Regions from separate parts of the Homo sapiens genome. Here region 2 is linked to region 1. Evidence: fine-mapped expression QTL. A gene starts in region 1. The other region holds a variant in brackets. All regions are shown on one strand. Distances are between the middles of the regions. Region 1 holds the start of SLC1A3-AS1 (SLC1A3 antisense RNA 1). Region 2 overlaps SLC1A3 (solute carrier family 1 member 3).

What was found.
Region 2: its variant is fine-mapped to the expression of SLC1A3-AS1 in lymphoblastoid cells after a statin (CAP, PIP 0.95). The same link has a PIP of 0.9 or more in lymphoblastoid cells.

What each region holds. Positions count from the first base shown.
Region 1 is chr5:36,720,510-36,728,845 of GRCh38, reverse strand. SLC1A3-AS1 (SLC1A3 antisense RNA 1) reads left to right here and starts at 3,658. Exons shown (of 2, transcript XR_007058736.1): 1 at 3,658-3,732. RefSeq lists enhancers at 4,661-4,930, 4,971-5,020, 5,031-5,080.
Region 2 is chr5:36,682,402-36,690,724 of GRCh38, reverse strand. SLC1A3 (solute carrier family 1 member 3) reads right to left here. Exons shown (of 10, transcript NM_004172.5): 9 at 6,727-6,861; 10 at 2,391-4,660. The coding sequence ends at 4,456. All of the region lies in intron 1 of SLC1A3-AS1 (SLC1A3 antisense RNA 1), which reads left to right. Among named protein-coding and RNA genes, the nearest start is that of SLC1A3-AS1, 39 kb to the left of the region's middle. RefSeq lists a silencer at 431-630 and an enhancer at 1,086-1,315. The variant A/C (reference allele first, on the strand shown) is at 5,029.

The DNA.
Region 1 (8,336 bases):
TAAAGATTTTTCCTTGCTATCTTTTCCAAAGGGTCATTTTAGAGAATGGTGTATCTGAATAAACTTTTAATTTATTTGTGTCTTTTTCTCCATAAAATATGCTCAGCAAAAGAAAGGACGTCTAAATTGGGGTTTGCTTGGAATTGTATGGAGACATTCTTGCAAAGTCTTTGGTTGAGGGCTGAATATCCCACTTTCCCTTGGATGTTCAGGAGTCTAAGAGTGGAGTTGAAAGTAAATCATATGTTTCTGAGGAGATTATCATTGACATTTCCATATTTTCCCTCAGTTTCTCAAATGTGCCATCTAATTCTGCAGCCCACAGATTATTCTGAATGATGTTCTTCCAAAAGGGCTTATCTGAGTAGGTGCTATGGGCCAGCCTGTTTCATCTTCATGACAATCCTTCGAGGTATGATTTTAGCCACATTTTTCTACAAGAAGGGGACTCTGAGAATTTAAGGTAACTTGCCATCCAGCTGCTCCGTGGCAGAACTGGGATTCAACCTCGAGTCTCTGACCTCACGGTTAAAGACCTTGACTTCTTGCTGTGGACGACTGCAAATGCTGGGTCACGTTCACGTTCAGCTTGAATCTCAAACAGAAACGATGAGATGGGCTGTGTTACGTTCCCTCAAGTGAGAGTCGCAGTGGGGCTAATGTGTTTGTGTGAATAAGGATTCTTCACTGACGTGTGGCAATATCACTCTACAAAGCCATGGGAAACAAAGCTCTGCTTTCCCCCTACGTTGGCACTGGTGGCCTGTACTTACGGCAGTGAGATTTGCATACAGCCACATCTGTCCAGCCTGGTACAGAGCCCTTAAACAACAGGAGCCCGTCCTCTGGCACAAGTTCAGATTCCCAAGGAGACTGCCCTCATACCACTAGACCCAACCCAAACTTGCGCCTCACTAGGTATTGCCCTTGGCCCCTGACTTTTTTTTTTTTTGAGACAGAGTCTCACTCTGTCGCCCAGGCTGGATTGCAGTGGCGCGATTTCGGCTCACTGCAAGCTCCGCCTCGCGGGTTCACGCCATTCTCCTGCCTCAGCCTCTCCGAATAGCTGGGACTACAGGTGCCCTCCATCACTCCCGGCTAATTTTTTTTTGGTATTTTTAATAGAGACGGGGTTTCACCGTGTTAGCCAGAATGGTCTCGATCTCCTGACCTCGTGATCCGCCCGCCTCATCCTCCCAAAGTGCTGGGATTACAGGTGTGAGCCACCGCCCCCGGCCAAGGCCCCTGATTTCTTACTCATTTGCTCATTATGTGCTAGCCTGTCCCTAAGATTTGGTACATTTTGCTACTGTTCTGACTAGTGACGTTAGCTCTCAGTGGAAATTCAGCCTCCCTTACTTGGATAAAGTACTTTGTAAAAAAATTTTGCGAAACCAATTTTTTCACTCACTGATACGCTGTTCTTAGGAGGGTAAGTAGACTCTGGAGGGCACTTTCTCAGGGAAGGAATGAGGGTCTCAGGCTCTGTGGGGAAGAAAGGCATGCAGAGGTGGCAGCTGCAGATGGCCTGACGGGTGGGAAATTTTGCCTCTTCTGGTTTCTGGTCACCCCAGCTTCTTGAAAGACTGAATTGAGGAGTGTGGGTGTTGGAGTGGGGTGAATGGGATAGGAATAGCTCTATGAGCAGCTGAAGCTACTCCGTTGGTACCATCGGGACCATACTGTTCTTTTCATTTGGAATCCTGAAAATGGTGCATATATAAAGACCTTGAGGGCTTAGCAGGTGTTGGGGAAACCACCACATTACTGATCCTTCAAGAGACCAAGACATAAAAATAGTGCCTCTTATTTCTGGCCTTTTGGCTACTGTTACTTCTGTGTCATTGTCTCTTATTACCCTCACTTCTAGCCACACCAGTCTTATCACTGTTCCTTGGATGGGCCTCAGGGCCTTTGCACTGGCTGTTCTCTCTGCTTGGACCACTCTTCCTCAAGATAGCCACATGCCTCACTCCCTCACCTCCTGCACTCTGCTCAAAAGTCAACTTCGTAGGGAGTCCTGACTTGACCACCCTAATTTAAATTGCACTTCTGATTTCACTTACTTTGCTTTTTCTCTCCATAGTGATCACCTCTTAACATATTACAAAATTTTCTTAATTTTTTAATGTTTATTGCCTATCTCCTGTTTCACGCTCCTTCTTGCATCCCTGAATGTAAACTCTGAGAATAGTGAGGTATTTTTTGTCCTTTTTGTTCAATAACAAACACTCAGTGCCTAGAATAATGCCTTACAGGAGTGCTTTATAAGCATTTGTTGAATGAATGAATGAACTAATGAATGAAGTGTAATACAAGGGGCAAAGGATTTGGCATCCTTTGGTCATGGAGTGCTGCTCAGATATGTACTATAGAAACCATTCTGAAGCATTTCAAAAGACATCCAGTTTCTCCTCTGTATACTGCAAAATCTTGGGCTTAGGTTCTGGCATTTAGTCTATGACAAATGATTGCTGGCAAAAGTTGAATGAAGCAGTTAAGAGTATGGGTTTGCAGTAAGATCCAGGTTCAAATTTACACCTTTCCATGTACTACCTGTGTGACTTTGGTGAAATTATCTTCTCCAGGCCTTAGGGTGAAATGTATGTGAGAATGCATGAAGCCTGCCACGTGGTTAATATTAAGAGTGATAACTCATATTATCATTGATGGAGGTGAATGAAAGAAATGGAGTAACACGCTTTTAAAACACAGTTTCCCCTCCATTATCATTTCAACCACTTTAGATGAAAATATTGAGGGATACATCCACAATTTCTAGTTAATTAAAAAATATCAGGAGGTCTTAGTAGATTCTAGATTTTTCCTTCAATGAAATGAGTTGTTAAATAAAAGGCCTCCATAAGTACAGGGTCTTGTCGTTGGGCTCTATCTTATGAGCGGTGGATCTGCCTCCCAGGAAGGTAGGCAGACACCAGTGAGGCATCTGGTGCTTGGGATGCAGCGAGTGGAGCCAAGCAGAGAATGATCAGATCCGTTTGCCTGGAATTTCTGCATTTGCTGCCCCAAACATCTGGAGCCAGGCTACCCAGTGCAGATGGAAAATAGCAAAATGCAAATTCCCTGGGTTCAGCTGAGGGAAGCCAAGGCAGACAGAGTCTGAGAAGGCGGATGAAAGGTGAGCCAAAACAAAAGCCCTGGCGGGTGGTGGGGCAGCGTTTTATCTAGAGCCTACGGCCCCCGGTAAGGACAGGAGATGAGAGAAGGGACCTTAGAGCTACTTGGGCCACCTTCATGTTCGTACTCATCCCCCTCCTTAACAGCCTGAAAGGGAGCCTGCTGGGCTTACGGCAGCCTCCCTGTCCTCTTCCTGATGCCATGCCTGCTCCATTGCTTTGCTTCTTCTGGATCCTGTTTCGCCCTCTCCCTCAAGAAGGAGATCCTGAAATAGATCCTGAGTCAATGACTCAGGTGCAAGTGCTTTATTAAAGAAAGGCTCCCAGAAGAAATCTACTTGCACCCGAATCATTGACTCAGGATCTCCTTCTGGGAGAATCCAAGCCAAGACAAGACAGACAACCCAACCAACTGAGCTGCTCACAGCTTCAACTGCTACAACCCTGGAAAGGATTCTGATTGGCTAGCTAAGGGTCACATGCCCAAATGGGCCTTTGATTGGCAGCTGTTGCTTCCTTCCTACTCCCTCCCACACACCCAGGAGCTCCAGCCTGTTATGGGATGGGCATCCTACCAGGAACCAAGGATGCTAAGGTAAGCAGTCCTTGCCCTCATAGGTTTACTTATACTTAAGGGGAGAGAACCGTTAGTCAAATCACCCCACATACAGATCTTTACACACTATGAAGGACAAGCACAGGGTGCAGTCAGTGGGAGGGGCCCAGAACGGGAAGTGCCATGCTGGCTGCTGCTGTGTGGAATGGGCTGTAAAGAGAGCAAGAGTGAAAGCCACAGCAGGGGAGCTGGTCAGAGATGGCAGTGGCTTTATTAGAGTGGTGGCCCTGGAGTTGGAGACAGGTGGGAAAAACTCAAGAGCCCTCTAAGGAACCGACCCATGGCAGTCCATCGCCACCAAGTCCCTCTTACCACTCTAGGTTTAAAGAAACCCAAAAAACAAAACTACGTTGCAACTGCACTGCTACACCAGGAAACCTAAGGGGGAACAAAAGAAAACTTAGTAGTGCCCTCTAGGCTGAAGATTTGACCTATTATTTACTAACCTTTCCCTCCCTCTTCCTTATTTTCAACAAATCTCCTGCCATCCATTTTGAATTCTTCTCTAAATAGAGAAAGCTTTCTTTCTCAGCTTCATTTAAATGTCCACCATGGTATTTACCCATGTTTTCTTGATTTTTATTTCTTTTTGGGGCGGGTATCTAAAAGATAATCTGATCCCTGTTCCTGATTCTGTAGGTGACAGAGAGAAGTGGTTTTCTCATTTTTTTGTGTGTGAAATTATTCGCATATGAGGAAAAGATAGCTCAAAAATAGAAGCTCTTTCATTATCTCTCCACAATGTAGTGTGGCCCCAAGTGACTATTTTGTGGAGACACGGTAATTTGGGGTGGCTAAATCATTACCCCGAGGTGTGTCAGATGCTGCCAAGACCTCCTTCATTCATGTGGCCAAGACTGTGGGCTTCCTGGCTGGGGAGGCAGAGGCCCTGCTCTTCTGCTGCTAACCTTGGGGTCAGCGAGCCCTGATCCACACTTCCTCTGGGCAACATCAATGGGGCTGCTGAACATATTGAGCCAGACTTGTTTCCAAGAGATAGAAGGAACTAGAGCATTGGGGAAAGTCCCAAGTAACTCTAGCCCTCAGCCACCTGCTGTGGCTGAAGATGAAGTCTCTGCAGCTTCAAGAATCCAACTGGCTGGTGCACATTGTTCTCATTGGCTAGATCATTCCTCCATGTAGCACTTCACTAAACTCATTAACAAATATTTACAAATGACATTGCTTTTTGGGGTCATGTATATTTCAGTCTTCAGAATCCATCAGGCACTCAAATCCCTTGGCAGTTCTAGTTCTCTCCCCTAGACATGCCTCTGCCCCCTACTACTCAGTTCCTTTTATTTCTACCATTCGTTTTTATTTTCTATTTCATTTCTTTACTTTTTAGAGACAAGGTCTCTGTCACCCAGGTTGGAGTGCAGTGGCATGATCATAGCTCACTGCAGCCTCAAACCCTTGGACTCAAGTGATCCTCCTGCCTCGGCCTCCTGAGTAGCTGAGACTACAGGTGTGTTCCACCACATCTGGCTAACTTTTGTATTTTTTGTCAAGATGGGGGTCTTGCTATGTTGCCCAGGCTGATTTCAAACTCCTGACCTCAAGCTGTCCTCCAGCCATGGCCTCCCAAAGTGCTGCCTACCATTATAGGCTGCCATGCCTGGCCCTTATTTTTTTTAAAAAATGATCTTCTCCCTTCTATGTAATTCCTATTCTACCTGTATTATTCTTCTTTCCCTGTATTATGCTCGTCCCTTGCTCTTCTTCTCCTCTCCCTTTCATTTTAACCACTCTTCCATCTCCTGCTACTGCATGTGAATCAGATTTGCCCTCCAAATACCGTGTGTATCACCATCAGTTCAGTGGCAGAGGCTGTTCTTGCGCTGGCTTGGAAGATGACAGTTCCCAAAGTATTCCCCATAGAGGCTGATCGGTCTGACCCAGCTAATGCTACCAGTTAAAATAATCCTGGCTCAGGGCCCATGAGACTCACCAGTCCTTATGTGGTATTGGAAAGTGAAACTGATTTGGCAGCCTCATTAGATTATAATCAGCTCGAATCTTCCCTTCTGCCTTCTCAGAGCATCACATGTGTCCCCAGGAACAGCAGAGGGGAAAAACCACCTCTCCTCGCCCGCTTTCTGTATTTCTTCTAAGGTTCTTAGTTCAAATTAAATCTTTACTCTGTGAGAGCAGAGAATGACTCATTGGCCACCATGACTATCACCTTAAGTGGGCTTCTAATTTGTTTTAGAAGCTACTAGCGACCCCTAGGATAGCATCTACAATTTCAAGAGTGTAGTTTCAGAGTACTGACTGTATGCACCAATAGATGCCGGGCTGAGAAGTTGGGACCACATTCGGTAACAAGAGTGATAATAGCTACCAGTTCCTGGTTGCTTAGACACTTCTGTATTAACTTGTTTAATCCTCGGATCAATCCTATGGGGTATTTACTATCTTATCTTATTTTAGGAGGTGGACGCTGAAGCACAGAGAGGTTAAGTAACTTGCCTAAAGTAACAGAGTTAATAAGTGGCAGAACCAGGATTGGAGCTCCAGGAGACTGGCTCCAGAATCTGTGCTATTAATAGTTCCTTGCATCATAATCTGTAGGTTATGAGAACTACAGAAGGTTGGTACCTAAGCTTGGCACAAAGACAATGATACTTAGGGATAGTCATTTGGAAGGAGAGAGATAGAATAATTGATGGGAAAGTCAAGGAATCCAGTAACAGAGTCTCTGGTAATAATCTTGGTATGTGAATTAGGGTGGAATCTGCGAATGTGGAAAGCTATAGACATGAGAGATGACGTGAAGGAAACATTTGGACTAATGTGGGACATAGAGGGGGAGAGCATGGTGGGAGCGTTCCACCTGAGAGAATGGTGGGACCAGGGTCAGAAGGAGGGGTGACAGAAAGTGCCTCTGACTTGTGTGTAACCCTGAGATTTTAGGCTGATAAGGTTTCAAAGACTCTGGCTCCCCTACACTTCCTTACCCAACACTGTGTCCCCAGAAGGAGGGATGCTGCTGTGGATTAGTTACACTCCATGAGGCCAGCAGGCTTGAGGGCTAGAGGGTGGGGCTTTTGCTGGAAGAAGCAGAGAGATTGGAAAGAAACACCCTGTATCCCTCGTCTTCTCCATGTGTACTTTCTTAGCGTCTTCCTTTGCGTATGCTAGATCATGGGACGTCTGGTCCAGGGCACCTCTGGGCCTGATTATCCCCCAACTTCCTTGGATGACCTTTTGGCTGGGGCAAGGGGAAAGAAGCGTGGAAAGGTATCTTAGGGGACACACATGCTCACATTTTCACACAACCTCATACTTCCTCTTCTGGAGAGAAAATAGCAAGATGAGCCCATCAGGAACATGGTGGGGCCTGGGAGTAATTAGCCAGGTAACAGGATATTCCACCTGCCTTCACTCTAGCTCTGGTGCTCAGAGGAAAAGGGGGCCTCCCAAGCTCCCCAGGGTGGGGCTACAAGTTTGGGACTGAAACTCCAGCCTGTGCTGACCATGCATTTTCCCTTAAGTCATGTCCTCCTCTGTGCCTGGAGCAGAGGTCATCAATGGGGTGAGATTTAGGGACCCAGAATCCACCTTTCTCAACCATGATAATATTTCTTTTGTCTACCCAAACTTAAATTCCCTTCTCTAGTTCTTTAGTGTCCTAATCTGCTTATGTTTTCTTATTTCAAAAAGATACTCAGCAGTGATAAATATCCTTGAAGTATTTGGTGCACAAAGCTAAAAGGAGCTATAAAAATAAAGACACCTCCTCCCTCAGGTATTTTGGTGCCGATAAAATGATGATATCTGAAGCCCTGGTTATGAAGAGCTCTTATTTCCGATAAACAAATAAAAACCAAGGGCTATATGAATATTAATAATTTGGAGATGCAGGTGGAGGTATTGCTATTCTTGAACAACATATGTTCATACTTCATCACTTTAATTAACAAAGTCCCTTTTCTTGTAATTTTAGCAGGAGGTATCCCAGGGTAAGAGAACAAGACCTGGATTTATGTGAATAGGATTTTTTATTTCATCACTGAATCCAAATAGCATTTTCCTAGTGTGAAAACAGATGGCAGAGACTTTATTTGTGGTCAAAAGCATTATGTCTGAGAGTGAACCTTTCTTTGGCAGGCGGATTTGCATAAATTCAGGAAGTGATTTAAGACATGATATGTCTCCTAGAACCAAATCCATAGCAGGTACTTTTATTAACAAAATTTATACACTCAAACACAGTGACTCAGAGAAGCTAATTTTCATTTTGGCAAATCATGATTTTTTTTTTTTTTTTTTGCTGTCAACTATATATGTGAAGATTAGAAGTATCTCACGAAACTGTCTGTGAGTCAGCATTTGCATGTTTCTCACGCCCTCGCTGAAGAATTTCTTCTGATTTGGTTTTTAAGACCTCTGTGTGTTTGACAGAAATTACTTGGGGGAAGTAATCAAATCTTGGCTTGCTGTTTACCTTAGTAGATACCAAATTATAATTTTGGTATCTTCAACAATGAAAAGTTTAAATAAGACACTGTCCTTAAATGATGTTTGAAACCATAAATTACTTTGCAAACATAAGGAGTTATTATTATTTATACAACATA
Region 2 (8,323 bases), 38 kb after region 1:
AAGAAGCAGGGTGAACAGAGGGAAAAGTGACATGGGGGCACTGAGGAATTTTAAACCTGACTTGATGGCTTTCACAGATTGCTCCCTCTCGGCACTGCAGACTTGGAATTCGATGTTACCCAAGTGAGATCTCTAAGAGGAAGTGCCCCAGCTCCCTTTAGAGCTCCCCGCGGAAGCGGCCCAAGGTGAGCTCCGCATTCCCCCTGGTGGCCACTATGAGGCTCGCTCCCCGGACGCCGCCTCGCGGATCTCGTAGATTTCTCATCTCCCGCTTTCCCTCTAGGACGCTGCCCATCACCTCCCTCGCTCTCCCTTCCTTCTTATTGTCAGCGTATTCATTCGGAGCCCTCCCTCGGCGTGACACGTCCCGACTGCTTTGGCCCCAGGACGCGGCCACACAGAGCCGGCCATTGTTGCTCCAGTTCTGGGACCACCCGGGTGGGAGAAGGGGAAGCGCGGCCGCTGCGGAGGCCGCTCGACTGACGGCAGCCTGGGGTCGGGGCCCGCGGCCACCCGGAAGGAGGGCGTGCGCCCGGCCCTGCCCAGCCCGCAGGCAGCCACAGCCCCGCAGCCCCTGCGGCGGGGATCCAGCCTTCCCGCCACGCTTCCTCCAGGCCCGTTCAGCTAACAGAACTCACACTTCTGTTTTCAACACTGTGTAGATGAGTCAAGGATTTTACTTTTTTTTCTATGCCTTTACTTATAGGTATAGTGAGGTAAAGTGAGATTTTTTCTCTTGAAAAGGAGAATTTTGCTTGGGTGGGAAGGGACAGTGGTGGTACCAGGATGAATGTGGATACAGGAGGACATAGACTCCTAACTTCTGAGGGTAGGATTTAAATATTTTGTTAAATGTAATAACTTATAAGAAACATTTTAAAAAATGTCAGCCAGAGGCTGGGTGCAGCGGCTCACTCCTGTAATCCCAGCACTTTGGGAGGCTGAGGCAGAAGGATGGCTTGAGGCCAGGAGTTTGAGACCAGCCTGAGCAACATAGCGAGATCCTGTCTCTACAAAAAATAAAAATAAAAATTAGCCTGGGCGTGGTGGTGTGAGCCTATGGTCCTAGATACTCGGGAGGCTGAGGATCGCTTGAGCCCAGGAGTTCGAGGCTGCAGTGAGCCATAATCACAGAGTGAGACCCTGTATCTTAAAAAAAAAAAAAAAAGCTGTGAACCTGCATATTTTTCATAGTTCCATTTGTGAGCACATGTGTGACTACCACATGTTGGGATCTAAGGCCTGCTTCTCCACCCTCTTTGTCATACTCTGGCTGAGAGGCACTTCCCTTAACCATAAGGGGCTTTCCACAGACCTCCCACAGGCAGATGACCTGCTTCTTATGTCTGCATTGTGGAGGTGGCCAAAACCCAGCGTGGGCTGCAGAAGGGAAGAAAATGGTCCCGGCAGAAGGGAGCACTTCCTAGCAGTGGATTGATTTTATGCGGCACTTCCCAGAACGTTTCACAGGGGGCAAATATTGATCTGCTCAGGGTGGCCAGGCTTGGTTCCCTCAGTTTGTGAGCAGCCTTTCTTTTCCCAAACTGGTCATGTAAATACCACATATGCCTTCACAAAAGTTAGGGTGTATGGTTCAAACATAGCGATTTGTAAATTTTTTTTTTTTTTTAGTCGTAAGATCTGTTAGAGAAACCGATTGAAATTAAGAATTTTACCCCCAGAAAAAGGCAAATGCACAAAACTTTCCCCACAACTTCAAGGGCGATGAACCTATTGAACTCTCATGTGGATGACCTAGGGGTCCATGGATCCAACTTAAGAGCCTTTCCTCTAGGTGGCTGCCACCTGCTGGTAGAGAGGGTCAGATTATAGGCTCCAGACACTACTTCAATCTGGAGATTTCATGATATTGCCTGCGAATTCTTTACTAAAAAGCATGATGAAAAGTAGTCATCCGTAAGCTGTTCTTAATGAATAGAGCACCAGCACAATGGCTGTTTCTGGAAATCCCTTGAGATCTTAGTTAGCTCTTTTCACAAATGGTGGTAATAATCACAGAGATAAATCTACCTAATTTGGAGGTCAGACAGGAAGTTACTTTTTCGGAAGGGCCCATGGTGGTATCACACTTTTCTAATCCCGACATGGAAATGATTCAATTCATCTGAGAAATTTGAATCTGACATGGACAAGGAAGTATGGCCTGCTACAGCAAAGTGCTCCGCTCACCTCCTCCTGTTTCCAGCTCCAGTTCTTGGAGTTGAGCAGGAGAGCATGTCCTTACTTATTTTCTTGTGGCTGGCTCTGCCAAGATTTTACCTTGCTGCATGGGATCCTTCCAGAGACTGCCCTGAGCTTATTGTAATATTTCCATGAATGGAAAATGTATTTTTCTTTGAGGAGAAGAATAACAACAACGTGCAAAGATGTTAATGTAAAACTATTTTTTTCTTTATTGAAAATACATCTACAAAGTAATGCTTCCCAGTCCACACTGAGTGCATGTGTATGCAGAGCCTGTGATGGCTTGGCGAGAGGATGGGCTCCCCACAGGACCTTTCCATAAGAAATGGTTAGTATATTAAAAAACACATATTGTGTAACAGAATTAAGTTGATATGATTAAGTCTTTGCTCTACTAGTGTCTTAAGAGGACAGCCACGTACTTTAACATTTGTAGTGTATTTCCGAAATAGAGCCTCGACATTAAATGGTTACTGCACCACAGCCTAATGTTAACTTTTATGCACAGAATGCTTGGGGTCTATATAAAAATATCTCTAATTGTATATCAGAGGATCTATGTCTAGATTTTTCAGTTTGTTAGCATAATTAAGTCCATTCTTCACCATTTTCAGCCAGAAACTCAAACACAGCTGCTACTGCCTGACAGCTCCCACTCAGCGTCTTTGACTGGATATTCCTTAGGGGGTAAAAATTAATCTCTAAACCTGGGAGCTGCCTTGCCTGAAACTAATGCCCCTGCTGTTTTTTTCTCATAACCTCATTGACAGTGTCTTCATACTGATTCATCTTCTACCATTTCTCTTATGGACACAAACAAAACAAAAGCAAACCCCACTCCAGCTGAAAGTTTTGAATGATTTGATAAGTGGGATTCCAAAACAAATAAATATTTTGTTTCCCTCATTCTAAGGACTTTTGATTAAAGAAAAACACTTTCAAATAAGAAATACCCACTCAACTCATGGACTTCTATTAGAGAGCTCATTCATTTGACTTCTTTCAAATATATAAGTCGTCTTATGTTTTGGTAAGCAGACTTCACGGGGGGAATGATTTTGGACTCGAGAAAAAGTGTTTCAGGTGAAAAAAAAAGCCAGAAAAATGAACCTCTTCTTTTTTATTCTTCCTTAAAGAAGACCTGTACTCTTGGTGTTTTCAAATCCTTTGTTTGTAATGTTGCCTGTGCTCAACTCTTTCCTAGCTCTTTAGTGTTCCACAGTGTGACCACAAGCACCCTTGCTAGCTGCTAGTCTTCTCATCTGTTTTCGAAGTCTATCATCAGTTGAGGAGTGGCAGGAGACATTCTTCCCAGAGTAGGAAAGAAGGGAATACTTCCCCCATTGGGATGAACTGGGCAAAGAGTTTGATGAATAATCCCACTCCTGGAATGGCCTCCTGCCTGGCGACTTGCATAACCTGCACTTTGCTCACAGGACCTGGTGACCACCACACACAGCCATCCTGTCCTTAGTTAGAAATGTTCACTCCCATTGAAGTGTCTTTTCTGAAGGCCTCGTGCTCCATGGATGGTACAGGGTGTTCTGAGGGGAAACAGAGGGCAGGTGCTTTCATGACATCACAGGATGTCTGGGCTGGAAGAGACCATGAAGACTTCTAGGGAAGTCCCTCATTTTATAGATGAGGACACTGAGGCCTAGAGGTGAGATGGGACTTGCTCAAGGCCACATGGAAACTTTGCCTTCTGTCTGTCCTCACAGCTGTGCTAGATGTATATGTGCACCTAGCTACTAATGAAATAGGTATACCAGTCAGAAGAGAAAGGGATAAAATCTTACTGTCCAACTGATAACCGGTTGTAATTCAAGTTGTTAACATTTTGAAACTAAAACTGAATTGTATTCTGAAAGATTTTTAAATTTCAAAAGTTGATTTTAAAATGTTTTTAGCCTACTATTTGTCTCTTTAACTTATATAAAAAAATCACATTTATAGGATTGTGTGCCACATAAACTTGTAAGATCTGATCAACACTATTTGTGATCTTGGTACCTTATTCGGTAAGACTAACATGAAATGATTTAAAAATTTCAATTGTGGGATGAAAATTGTACACTTTGGCCACCCAAAATCCTCCCTTGTGTTTTGGAGGACTATTTTCCAGTCTTATCAGAAGGGAGGAAAGGGAAGATGACGGGCTTGCTGGAGCGAATGAGCTGTAATGAGATGGAAAGATTTTATAATGGTTTTTAACACCTGGTGCTCAAGAAAGTGTTTCTTTATGTTAGTCTACATCTTGGTTTCACTGTCGATGGGTTTCTCAGTTTCATTGTCCTGTGCAATCAGTTGATATGGTTTCTTCATTTCATTCTCTTCAATCACTGAGTTACCCATTTCAACATCTCTGTTCTTCAGTTCATGTCGTGACAAGTGCTCCACAATCCCAGCTCCCAGGGAGTCTCCCAGTACGTTGGTGGTGGTCCGGAGGCGATCCCTGCAGGCAGGGTGGGGAGGAGGGAAAAACGAGGCTCCCGTGAGCATCACAAGTTTTCAACTTACGTTAGGAACTGGCCAGCGAAGCACCTCTTAACATTCAGTTCGCCGTATCTACCAACTGCAAGATTACGTAATAGACACATAATATTCATAATAGTAGCTATTAAAGGTTATAAGGCCATATAGATGATGAATGTTCAGTTATTAGTTTGACTGAAGTGAGAGTCCCAACAGTGGGGAACGAGCCTTCTCTTTAAGCCATTCTCATAATAATACTAAGATGTCATTTGTCCCTCTCAGTCTCATTTTCTCATGAATGTATAGTGGAGTTTTGCAAAGACTACATGATGTGTGATGTCACAACTC[A/C]CTGAAGCAGTTGTGAAACTGCAGAAACAGGAAACTCCAACTGTCTTGTATTAAGCCAGACATTAAGAAAACTTGCAAAACATAAAATAGTACCATTCTTTTCACTAAATATTGGGGTCGAGGCCGGGCACCGTGGCTCACACCTGTAATCTCAGCACTTTGGGAGGCCAAGGCAGGTGGTTCACCTGAGGTCAGGAGTTCGAGACCAGCCTGGCCAACATGGTGAAACCCGTCTCTACTAAAAATACAAAAATTAGCCAGGCGTGGTGGCGGGCGCCTCTAATCCCAGCTACTCAGGAGGCTGAGGCAGGAGAATCACTTGAACCCAGGAGGCGGAGGTTGCAGTGAGCCAAGACTGTGCCATTGCACTCTAGCCTGGGCAACAGGAATGGAACTCCATCTCAAAACAAGTAAATAAATAAAATAAATTTTGGGGTCGAAATGGTTGTTTTTTGCAAAAAAATGCTATTTATGTTAGCATATATAACCTTTTTGTTTAAAGATGATAATAAATTCATTCCATTATTTTATTTTATGAATTATTATCACCTTTAAATAAAACATGTAATAAATTAACAAGTGGAAATTTATAAGTGTGTCTAATATGATAAATATGAATAGATACAACCCATATAGATCAAATGCTGTTTCAGTTCTCAATAATTTTGAAGTGTAAAGATCAAAGACTGTGGAGAACTGTAGCTTTATATGAGAGTGCTCATGTTAACTGATGCTGACTGTGGGCCAGACAGTAGGCTGCATGCTTTCTAGGCATCATTGCACTGAATCTTGCAGTACCCCTAGGAGGTAGAGGACACGGGCACCCTCATTTTACAGAGGTAGAAACTAGGGTGGTTGGGTAATCTGCCCGGTCTCACACAAGGTCAGGACACAAACACAGGTCCAAGTAACTGGGGAGTGAATCCTCTCGCCCAGTCTGGGGTTTCACGCACACTGTCAAGCTCTTTTCATGTTGCAGTTCTAGTGAACATATGTTGTGTTAACTCCAACACGTACTCTGTTCTAGGCTTTGCTTTGGGCATCCTGGGGAAAGATTTTCAAAAGTGGAAGGAAATTTTTAAGAGAAAAGGCACAGAGAATGCCAGCTGGAAGAGCGAGGGAAGGGGGCGAAGGGATGGGCCTGTAGAGGTTAGAGTTTGAGAATGTGGAGGGCACATTTCTTGTAACTTTCCCTAGATCCGAAACTCAATTCCACTTAATGACACTAGCTCTCTTCCCAGTGTCGGCATAGCTCAGCCTCACCCTATTGGGCTAGGATGGGAAAATCATTCCCACTGGAATGGGAAGCACACAGAGGCAGGGCCTAAGCTGGCATGTGGGGCCTGCAGCTTTGTTCCAGCTGCTGTGGTGTCATGTTGTGCAACTCAGAAACAGCCTTGCTGATTTATGTTGCCTTTGCAGACAGCGGGTTTCCCAATTCCTGAATGGCTTTATGGAGTGAGATGTGTGGCAGCCAGATGTGCCCCTTAGGCTGACAGGGGAGTGAGTGCACATGGCATCTGGGGCTCGGTCTCCAGATAAGGACCAGGGGTCAGACAATAAGGACAATTTAACTATGGGCCGAGAGGCCCCTCTCCTCAGAGTTCTTTCTGTAGATGTGCCAGGCTGCCTGGTGCCCTAGAGTGACAGAGGGGGACCCTGTGACAGTGAGCTGGAATGCAGGCCAAGCATACTCACAGGAACCAGTCCACCGCGATGATGAGCGTGATGTCGTCAGTGGGCAGGCCGACAGATGTCAGCACAATGACCATAGTGACCAGGCCCGCCTGAGGAATTCCAGCTGCCCCAATACTGGCAGCTGTGGCTGTGATGCTGTTAACAGAAGTACCAGAACAGAAAACACTTTTACAAAGCTCCCCACGTAGAGCATATACGCTGCAAAATACGCACGGTGCCGATGCCTGACTTGCCATGTAACACAAGAGGACGCGCTTCAGAAAAAACGTAAATGAGATTTTTTTTTTTTTTGAAACAGTATCTCACTCTGTTGCCCAGGCTGGAGTGCAGTGGTGCAAACTAGGCTCACTGAAACCTCTTCCTCCTGGGTTCAAGTGATTCTCGTGCCTCAGTCCCCTGAGTAGCTGGGAATACAGCTTCATGCCCCCACACTCGACTAATATTCGTGTTTTTAGTAGAGCAGGATTTCACCATGTTAGCCAGGTTAGTCTCGAACTCTTGACCTCAAGTGATCCACCCACCTTGGCCTCCCAAAGTGCTGGGATTACCGGCATGAGCCATCATGCCTGGCCCGTAAATGAGATTAAAAAAAAAAAAATTGAACTAATCATCATGCTAACTAATATTTATCATGTGCTTACTATGTGTCTTCTGATATACTAAGCATGGTTTATCTAATTTGGTCCTCGTACAATGACCCTTGTGAAGTTGGACCTATTATTCTAGTCGTTTTTAAATAAACTGGCAGCTATACACTTTTAAACATCCCTGAAAGTATTTTGTAAGGCAAAGTCTAAAATGCTGTAGAGTTACAATAATAATTTGTTTCTAGTAATTCCCCTATCCAAGTGGAGGGTTGTAAAGTTACTGAACATTCATGATTAATGTTGTCAAAAGAATCAAATTTGGTTTCTTAGTTTGGTTTGCTTAGTTAATTCAAAAGCAAAATGATTTATGAACAAAGTTTTATAGTATTAGAAATACTTTTTATGAAGGCAGTGTAGACCTGGCTTGCAAAGCAAATGTTTTATAAATAGTAAAGTATTATCTGGTTATAAGTGGTATTAATAAAGTATTAAGTCTGTCACAGAAAGTATTCATGGTCCCCATACTGGTCCCCTTCTAAGATACTGGGACTTTTAGCTGGTATATGGCTCCCCAGAATGAAGACTACACTTCCCAACCTCCCTTGAAGCTTAGATTAAGTTCTGGCCAGTCAGACATGCATGGAGGTACTGAGCAACTTGCAGGGTATACCATCTCCCCACTTCCGACTGACTAAAATCTGGGGGTGGTGAGTCATCCCGGACCACCTGGATAATGATAATACCCTAGAGACTTAGTCTCTTATACCACAGAGCACCTATCAATCAGCCTTGAAGGCTTTGTGGAGCAGAGCTGTGCTGCATGAAAGAGAAATATATTTCTATCTTGCTTGTCACTGTTACTGTTATTTTTAACTCTGTCACCTTTTTTTTTTAATAACCCAGAGCCTTTCAATCAATATGCCAAAGTATAGGTTACAGGTGAGCTGAGATAATGATCTCCTAAGTCCCATTATAACTACTTTGGGCCTGAGGTTCCCAGAACCCCCAGG